2 linked regions of the Homo sapiens genome follow. The protein of the gene in region 1 purifies or fractionates together with the protein of each later gene. This does not show direct contact. Each region holds a gene or a part of one and is shown on either strand. Other genes may lie near its edges. The genes, in order: CLIC2 and CDO1.

The links.
Region 2: the proteins of CLIC2 (region 1) and CDO1 fractionate together in Homo sapiens (co-fractionation; one large-scale study listed by BioGRID). This does not show direct contact.

What each region holds. Positions count from the first base shown.
Region 1 is NC_000023.11:155,296,589-155,300,408, reverse strand, and holds part of CLIC2 (chloride intracellular channel protein 2), read left to right. Parts: intron 1-1,263; coding exon 1,264-1,373; intron 1,374-1,498; coding exon 1,499-1,624; intron 1,625-3,820. UniProt on the Homo sapiens protein: In the soluble state, catalyzes glutaredoxin-like thiol disulfide exchange reactions with reduced glutathione as electron donor. Displays weak glutathione peroxidase activity. Can insert into membranes and form chloride ion channels.
Region 2 is NC_000005.10:115,813,608-115,817,874, reverse strand, and holds the start of CDO1 (cysteine dioxygenase type 1), read left to right. Parts: upstream 1-1,215; 5' UTR 1,216-1,477; coding exon 1,478-1,647; exon of another isoform or gene 1,648-3,288; intron 3,289-3,390; exon of another isoform or gene 3,391-3,682; coding exon of another isoform or gene 3,683-3,789; intron 3,790-3,920; coding exon of another isoform or gene 3,921-3,977; intron 3,978-4,267. UniProt on the Homo sapiens protein: Catalyzes the oxidation of cysteine to cysteine sulfinic acid with addition of molecular dioxygen.

The sequences.
Region 1 (3,820 bases):
TGGGCAAAGGACATGAACAGACACTTCTCAAAAGAAGACATTTATGCAGCCAAAAAACACATGAAAAAATGCTCATCATCACTGGCCATCAGAGAAATGCAAATCAAAACCACAATGAGATACCATCTCACTCCAGTTAGAATGGCAATCATTAAAAAGTCAGGAAACAACAGGTGCTGGAGAGGATGTAGAGAAATAGGAACACTTTTACACTGTTGGTGGGACTGTAAACTAGTTCAACCATTGTGGAAGTCAGTGTGGCGATTCCTCAGGGATCTAGAACTGGAAATACCATTTGACCCAGCCATCCCATTACTGGGTATATACCCAAAGAACTATAAATCATGCTGCTATAAAGACACATGCACACGTATGTTTATTGCGGCATTATTCACAATAGCAAAGACTTGGAACCAACCCAAATGTCCAACAATGATAGACTGGATTCAGAAAATGTGGCATATATACACCATGGAATACTATGCAGCCATAGAAAATGAGGAGTTCATGTCCTTTGTAGGGACATGGATGAAATTGGAAATCATCATTCTCAGTAAACTATCGCAAGAACAAAAAACCAAACACCGCATATTCTCACTCATAGGTGGGAATTGAACAATGAGATCACATGGACACAGGAAGGGGAATATCACACTCTGGGGACTGTTGTGGGGTGGGGGGAGGGGGGAGGGATAACATCAGGAGATATACCTAATGCTAGATGACGAGTTAGTGGGTGCAGCGCACCAGCATGGCACATGTATACATATGTAACTAACCTGCACAATGTGCACATGTACCCTAAAACTTAAAGTATAATAATAAAAAAAAAAGAAAGGAAATTTGGTAAGATCTATCAAAATGGGAAATGTGCATACATTTTACTGACCATTTTCATTTTAAAGATTAACCTTAAAGATATAATCTCAGAAGTGGAAGAAGCTATATGCCCAGAAATGTTTGTTTCTGAAGTGCTTAGAGTAGTAATAATTTTGGAATATCTTAAATGTCTATCAATAGGAAAATTATATAAATTCTGATAATATATAAAATTTATTATTATTATTATGTACCCATCACAGTTGTAACTTTACATATAATGAGATTATTTGCTTCCCTATATCTCTCTGTCCATAGATGATGGAGTACATGAGATTAAGAATGTCCATGTTTGTCTCTAGCAACTGGCTCATTTCCTATTAGGAACTAAATACATACTTATTGAACAAACAAATGAACTGAGGTCTCTCTTTATCTTAATAGGCTGGAAGTGATGGAGAGAGTATTGGAAACTGTCCCTTTTGCCAACGCCTTTTCATGATCCTCTGGCTTAAAGGAGTTAAATTTAATGTGACAACTGTTGACATGACCAGGTAAGAGAAATCAGGACATGTTAAATTCTAGGAATTGAGATTGGTAGATACCAATAAAATATTGGTGTTTATTTAATGTGTACTTTATCTAGAGACCTAACTCTGCTTATTTTTAATAATCATAGAAAGCCTGAAGAACTAAAGGACTTAGCCCCAGGTACCAATCCTCCGTTCCTGGTGTATAACAAGGAGTTGAAAACAGACTTCATTAAAATTGAGGAGTTTTTAGAACAAACCCTGGCTCCTCCAAGGTACAGCATTTACAAGATACTATTTTGCTGAAGATAATCTATTTTACTGGCTTGTTTATTGCAGATTTAGTATTCTTACCAATTTAAGTACTTTTGGATTTCTGGGCCTACATGTCAAATGACACACATGCATAAACATACCCCTCCAACTTCAAATACAAAAAGATGATATGTGTAATATTTCAAATAATTTTTAAAAGCTGCATAACATACATAACACAAGAAGGTAAGTTCTCTGTGCTCTAGAAATAGAGTAGGAACATATAGTGAGATGGGAGTGAGGGAATGGGATACTAACACTATGTAATTCATAAGGATTGGTCATGACTGGTCCTTAACACCACTGACGAAATGACAGAACATACCCAACACGAGGGCTAGTGGCCAGGACATAGACTTCAAGCAGTTAACCAGAGGCCAGAACTGTACTGCCTACACTTGAATGACAACCGCACATCTCTGTCTACCCAGGATAGGTCTAGAAACAAGAAGCATGCTGTATTAATTTTCTATTGCTGTGTAACAAATTACCACAAACTTAGTATCTTAAAACAACAGCTATTTATTATCTCACAGCTTCCATTGGTCAGTTGTCTGGGCATAGCCTGCTAAGGTCCTCTGCTCAGGGTATCAAAAAGTGGCATTCAAGGTGTTGGTCGGGAACACAGTTATCATATGGGGCCCAGGTGACTCTTCCATCTTCATTCAAGTTTTTGGCAGAATTCAGTTCCTTGCAGCTATATGACTGAGGTCTTAGGTTATTGGGTAGCTGTTTGTTGGGGTTGGGTTGGCATTCAATTACTAGAGGCTGCCCCTCTGTATAGGCATTTCGCAACATGGCTGATTGTTCTCTTCCTCTAAAACCTGCAGGAGAATGTCTCTCTGATGGTTCACCTTCTTTTTTTTTTTTTTTTTTTTTTTTTTGAGACCGGAGTCTCGCTCTGTCGCCCAGGCTGGAGGGCAGTGGCACATGTTGGCTCACTGCAAGCTCCGCCTCTCGGGTCTCGGGTTCACGCCATTCTCCTGCCTCAGCCTCCCGAGTAGCTGGGACTACAGATGCCCGCCACCACGCCCGGCTAATTTTTTTTTTTTTTTTTTGTAATTTTAGTAGAGATGAGGTTTCACCGTGTTAGCCAGGATGGTCTCAATCTCCTGACCTTGTGATCCACCGGCCTCGGCCTCCCAAAGTGCTGGGATTACAGGCGTGAGCCACTGCGCCTGGCCTGATGGTTCACTTTCTTTTAAATTTTTTTATCAGTACAAATTATGGGATACATATGAAATTCTATTATGTGTATGTAATGCATAGTGATAAAGTCAAGGTATCTACGGTGTCCATAACCCAAATACAATACATTTTTGTAACTATAGTCACCCTGCTCTTCTATCAAACATTGAATTTATTCCTTCTATCTTATTTATGTGTGTACTTTTTAACACACTTCTCTTCATCTTCCCTTCTCCTCCCAATCACCCTCCCCAGTCTCTGTTATCTCTCTTTCCATTCTCTATCTTCATGTGATCAACTTTTTTAACTCCCACATATAAGTGAGAACATGCTATTTTTGTCTTTTTGTGCCTGGCTTATTTCACTTGACATAACAACTCCAGTTCCATCCATGTTGTTCCAAATGACAGGATTTCATTCTCTTTTATGGCTGAATACTATTTCATTGTGTATGTATACCACACTTTCTTTATCCATTTATCTGTTGATGGACACTTAGATCGATTCCATACCTTGTCTATTGTGAATAATGCAATAATAAACATGAGAGTGCAGGTATCCCTTTGACATACTGATTTCTCGTGCTTTGGATAAATGCCAATTAGTGAGATTTTTGGATCTTATGGTAGTGCTACTTTTGGTTTTTTCAGAAATCTCCATGCTGTTTTCCATAGTGGCTATATTTATACTCCCAAAAACAGTGTATAAGAGTTCCTTTTTCTCCACATCCTTGCCAACGTCTGTTAATTTTTTTTTTGTCTTTTTAATAATAGCAATTCTGACTGAGGTGAGATGATATCTCATTTTGGTTTTGGTTTGCATTTCTCTGTTGATTAGTAAAGTTGAGCATTTCTTTATGTACATTTTGGCCATGCCCTTTGCCCATATTTTATGAGATTTTTTTTATTGTTGAGTTGTTTGATTTCCTTGTATATTCTGGATATTAGTCCCCTGTTGAAGTTTGCAAA
Region 2 (4,267 bases), on another chromosome or scaffold:
CTTGTAGCCATTTTTGAACAATAGGTGATTCCGCTTTTAACAACACTGTTAGAATATAATGTAGCGAGTTTTACCAGAGATGTTTAAGACTACCTGGCACAAGTAAATTTCATTGTATACATGTATATACACGAGGGAGGGTGATCATAGTCTAGAAAAAAACAGGTCTTCAGAAGTCTAGAACTTTAATAACCTTAAATCCAAATTATTCCCTGCGTCCATCCATAATGAGAAGGAAGAAATCTACACTTGCATTTCTTCCACCTTTCACATCTTTCTCATTTAAATCCTACTGTACTTGATTTGTGTTGTTCCCAACGTACTAGGTGCTATGCATGACGTAGAAACGTGTTTCCTTATATGTATGTACTAGCAGGCTCCTTCAAGCACATGCCTAAGGTTGAAAGATTCAAATATAATTATAGCCTCTTAAATTATTGCGTCAGAGCCCGCCCTATCCCCTCAGAAAAAGCCCCCTTTTACACCATCAAATGAAATATCAGGTTATTTGCACTGGATATTTTTTAAAAGAAAATATTTGATTTTAAAATCAAAGAGTTCTTGGTTTTCCATCATTTCACTAATTGTCTTACTAGAGACCCGAGTCTCCTTTGTCAAAATATATTTCAGTACGCATTTTAAAAAATATGTGTGTGTGTATACTTAAATATATATATATATAAAGTCTTGGACTTATTTTCACCTAGCCTGGGGCATATCGTGGATAGTTTCAATCGACAAAACAGGCACTCTCTGGCCTAGGAGTGGAATCCATCCTCAATTTTCGCAGGCTCCTCACAATTCTCTATTTGGAAGAAGTGTCCCTCTCCTTCCCTTTTCTTTTCCTCCTTTACTCAGCGTCAGTCCCCGCAGCCATCTCCTCCGACCCTTTTTGTCTACGTCCCAGCGTCGCGAACCACAGCGGCGGAGGTGGAGCGGGGAGAGGCGTTAGGCCGGGCGGCTAAAACGCGCCGTTAAAGTGGGGGAGAGATTGCGCGGAGCCCACGCGATCCCTGGGACGCCGGAGACAACGGGGCTCTTGGGAAGGCGCGGAGCCCGGGGAAGCCGGGGATGTGCGCGTGAGCCGTGCCCGCAGGGTCTCCCCGCCTCCGCCACCTTTCTTGGGTGGCTCTCCGCCTCGTCCTCCCTCCGAGGGCCGTTGGTACATTCCTAGTGACTCCAAGCGCTTAAAAGGGGCCCGGGAGGATGAACCCCACAGATCTGAACCTGATTTGTGTGTGCACCGCGTCTCCAGCGATCCCGGATCCACTGCGCTGCCAGGGGCCTGGGGGTGGGTCTCTTGCTGTCTCTGCGACGACATCCTTACGTTTCGGCACTCTAATGCTGGGTTTGTGCGTGTGTGTCTGCTTAGCGGTCTAGCGGGCTGTTAGGCTCCCTCGCCCCCAGCTCCTTGGCTCGCTCAGCTCCTCCACCGCAGCCCAGCAGTGAGACGCGCGCGCAGCCAGCTCCCCACGAGATGGAACAGACCGAAGTGCTGAAGCCACGGACCCTGGCTGATCTGATCCGCATCCTGCACCAGCTCTTTGCCGGCGATGAGGTCAATGTAGAGGAGGTGCAGGCCATCATGGAAGCCTACGAGAGCGACCCCACCGAGTGGGCAATGTACGCCAAGTTCGACCAGTACAGGTGAGCGCGCTGCAGCTTCAATGCCAGGCGGCGCCCACTCGCCCCGTCTGAGGAGGAATGGACGTGGGGGACGCAGCCCAAAGTGACTGGCTCGGGAAGCTCGGGCCGCGCTGCGTCCGCCGCTCGCCCCCTCGCTGGCCAGCCGCGGGGCTGGCACGACTCGCTTGGGGCTCCGCGGCCACAGCGCAGGCGGAAGGTGGATCCTACTGGCCTTGCTGACCTCCGGCCGGGAACGGCGGACAGGCGCCGGGAAGGGAGGCCACCGCGCGTCTGCGAGATTTTCTGTTCTCTTCTCTCCCGCAAACCCCTCTGCTTCTAAACCACCAGTCCTCCTGCCCCTGGCCTCGGGAGCAATGCCCACACTCCCAAGCCATCGTTAACCCCGGGCGCGGAGATGCGGAGAGACCGCACTCAGGTTCGGGCCCTCCTGACACCTTAAGGAACCGTCTGGCCGGACTAGCAGAGGGTGCTCCCAGGGGAGCACTACATCAGCCATCGGGAGAAGTGTGTGATGTTGAAGAAGACAAGTCACCCGCGTCAGTTCTCCATCACTGCGCCTTCGGTCGCCTGCAACCGGGCACCTTATAGCAAGCATTTTTACTCATGTAAAATAGCGTCTTGTGGCCGTCAGCTGCCACTACGGAATTTCTGCTGTTCCCTTTCCCAAACCAATTTAACTAACTTCCCCGACTGTGGGTTTATTCAAATCCACTGCCAAGTTTCGCAGATTAAATATTCGACCGTCGTTTTTTTCAGCCCCCAAATGATCTGATTTATCTTATCCTTGCTTCTGACGATCTGTAATGTAAATTAAAGACCCCTACTTCCCAGATGTACTTGAGTGAGGTGCCCTGGTAAGCTGGCTTTTTTGCAGCCCCGGCTTGGTGATTAAGTCGAATCTCTCTACCAATCCTCCGGGGCCAGAGGTAAAATTTAATCACCCCGAAGTGTGAGAGGTTCTACTTTTTCTGAGCAGTTAGTGCGTCAGTCTTTGTGGTTTTTTGGGTTTAGGGTTAGGAGAAAGGGGTAAGTGAAAGAAAAGAATAAGGAAAGAAGTAAGTTTGTTTTTCTTGGGAGCAGGTTCTTTTAGTCACTCTTCAACATGTGGGATGTTTCGTAAAGTTTTGTTGGCATGGGCGGTTTCAACTGTATTTTAGGATTTGAAATAGAAAAAGTGAAGACCACTAAGGATCCCATTTTTCATATACAAGTGACTTGAGGAAATTCCTTTGGCTCCTATCAGCTTAGTTCATGGTAGAGCCCTTCTGTAGCCGTGAAAGCTAGCAGAGAGTCTAGCTTTTAAATTTTCTTGCATTTGCTCCAGGTAATTGAAGACTTGTTATGGGACAGGTACTCTTCCAGACACTTGACACATATGAGGAATGGCAGGCAATGAAGAAGTTGAATGACTTGCACTAGGTCTTCTATCGATAGCGGCTCCAGGCTCCCGGGGTTAGCATTGTTGTTCCAGAGCCTACACTCTAAACCACTGTTAAACCAGGACAGGTTGTAACAGTTTTTAATCTTTAATCTTTAGAACAAGTGTATTTTCAAGGACCTTGAACTAGTCTCGATTGACAAACTCTAAAGCTTTTGAAGTGCAACCAGCTGGGTTGATCGGTCTTTTCACAGATATCTGAGGTACAGCTCATTAACATAATGGATGTAGTCCCGAGGGGGCAGTTGGGGGAAGACAGGAGATGGGAGAGAAGTCAATTCTACAGTATTTTTTGCATTAAATAGGTGCCTAGCGCTGTGAAGGATTCTGTTCTCTGACTTTGGGAGGGCCAGTGCAGAAGAATCAAGACAGAATATGCTCCCGTGTGGGCCAGGCTGTGAATTCTTTGAAAGAAGCTGCAGAGAAGCAACAAAGATTATCCTAAGACTTCTGGAGGAAGAATTAGGATCCTTCTGCAGGAACTCAGTTTACTGTGAATTGAAGGTTGTGTACACAGCTTCTTGTTAGGTCATAAAGGCTACAAAGTAGGGAAAACTGAGGCTAAAAAGCACTTACTAAGTAACTCCCTCTAGGATCATGCTCTTCGGACACCTCGGGGTGGGGAGGAATGGGACAGGATGGAAGGGGCATGCTGGACAAGAGTTAACCGATGACGAAGGGAAAAAAAACTCCCAAAAAATGGAGTAAAGACCCCTTTTCTTTAACATGACAGTCTAAATGAATGTCATAATTATGAAACTTTGCTAACTAGATGCTGTCAACAGTACACCTTGGACCAATAGAAACTTTGACGTTGATTTTGCTTTTTTCACAGTCGTGGTCGTGGTTTGCAGTTTGTTGTTGGTGGTGGCAGTGGTGGTGGTTGGTTGTGGTGAGTGTGTCTGTGTGTATGTGTTTGCCAGTTACTGGTTTCTCCTAATTGTAAGAGGTTTAGAGGGTTCTTTACTTCACTAATGTAGTCTTCTTTGTTCTGGTAGTTAGATCAGCCCCCACGGTATTTGTGGAAGACTTTTCATTATAAGGGCTTTTGAATGTGGTTTGTGTCTAGGCTTTAGTAAAACTAAGAATTCTAGAACAGCTATTTAATGAAACCTTGTTTCTCAAGTCTTGATTTAGCTACAGGCAGAAAAAAGAAAAAAAAAAAAACAATAGCAACATTCT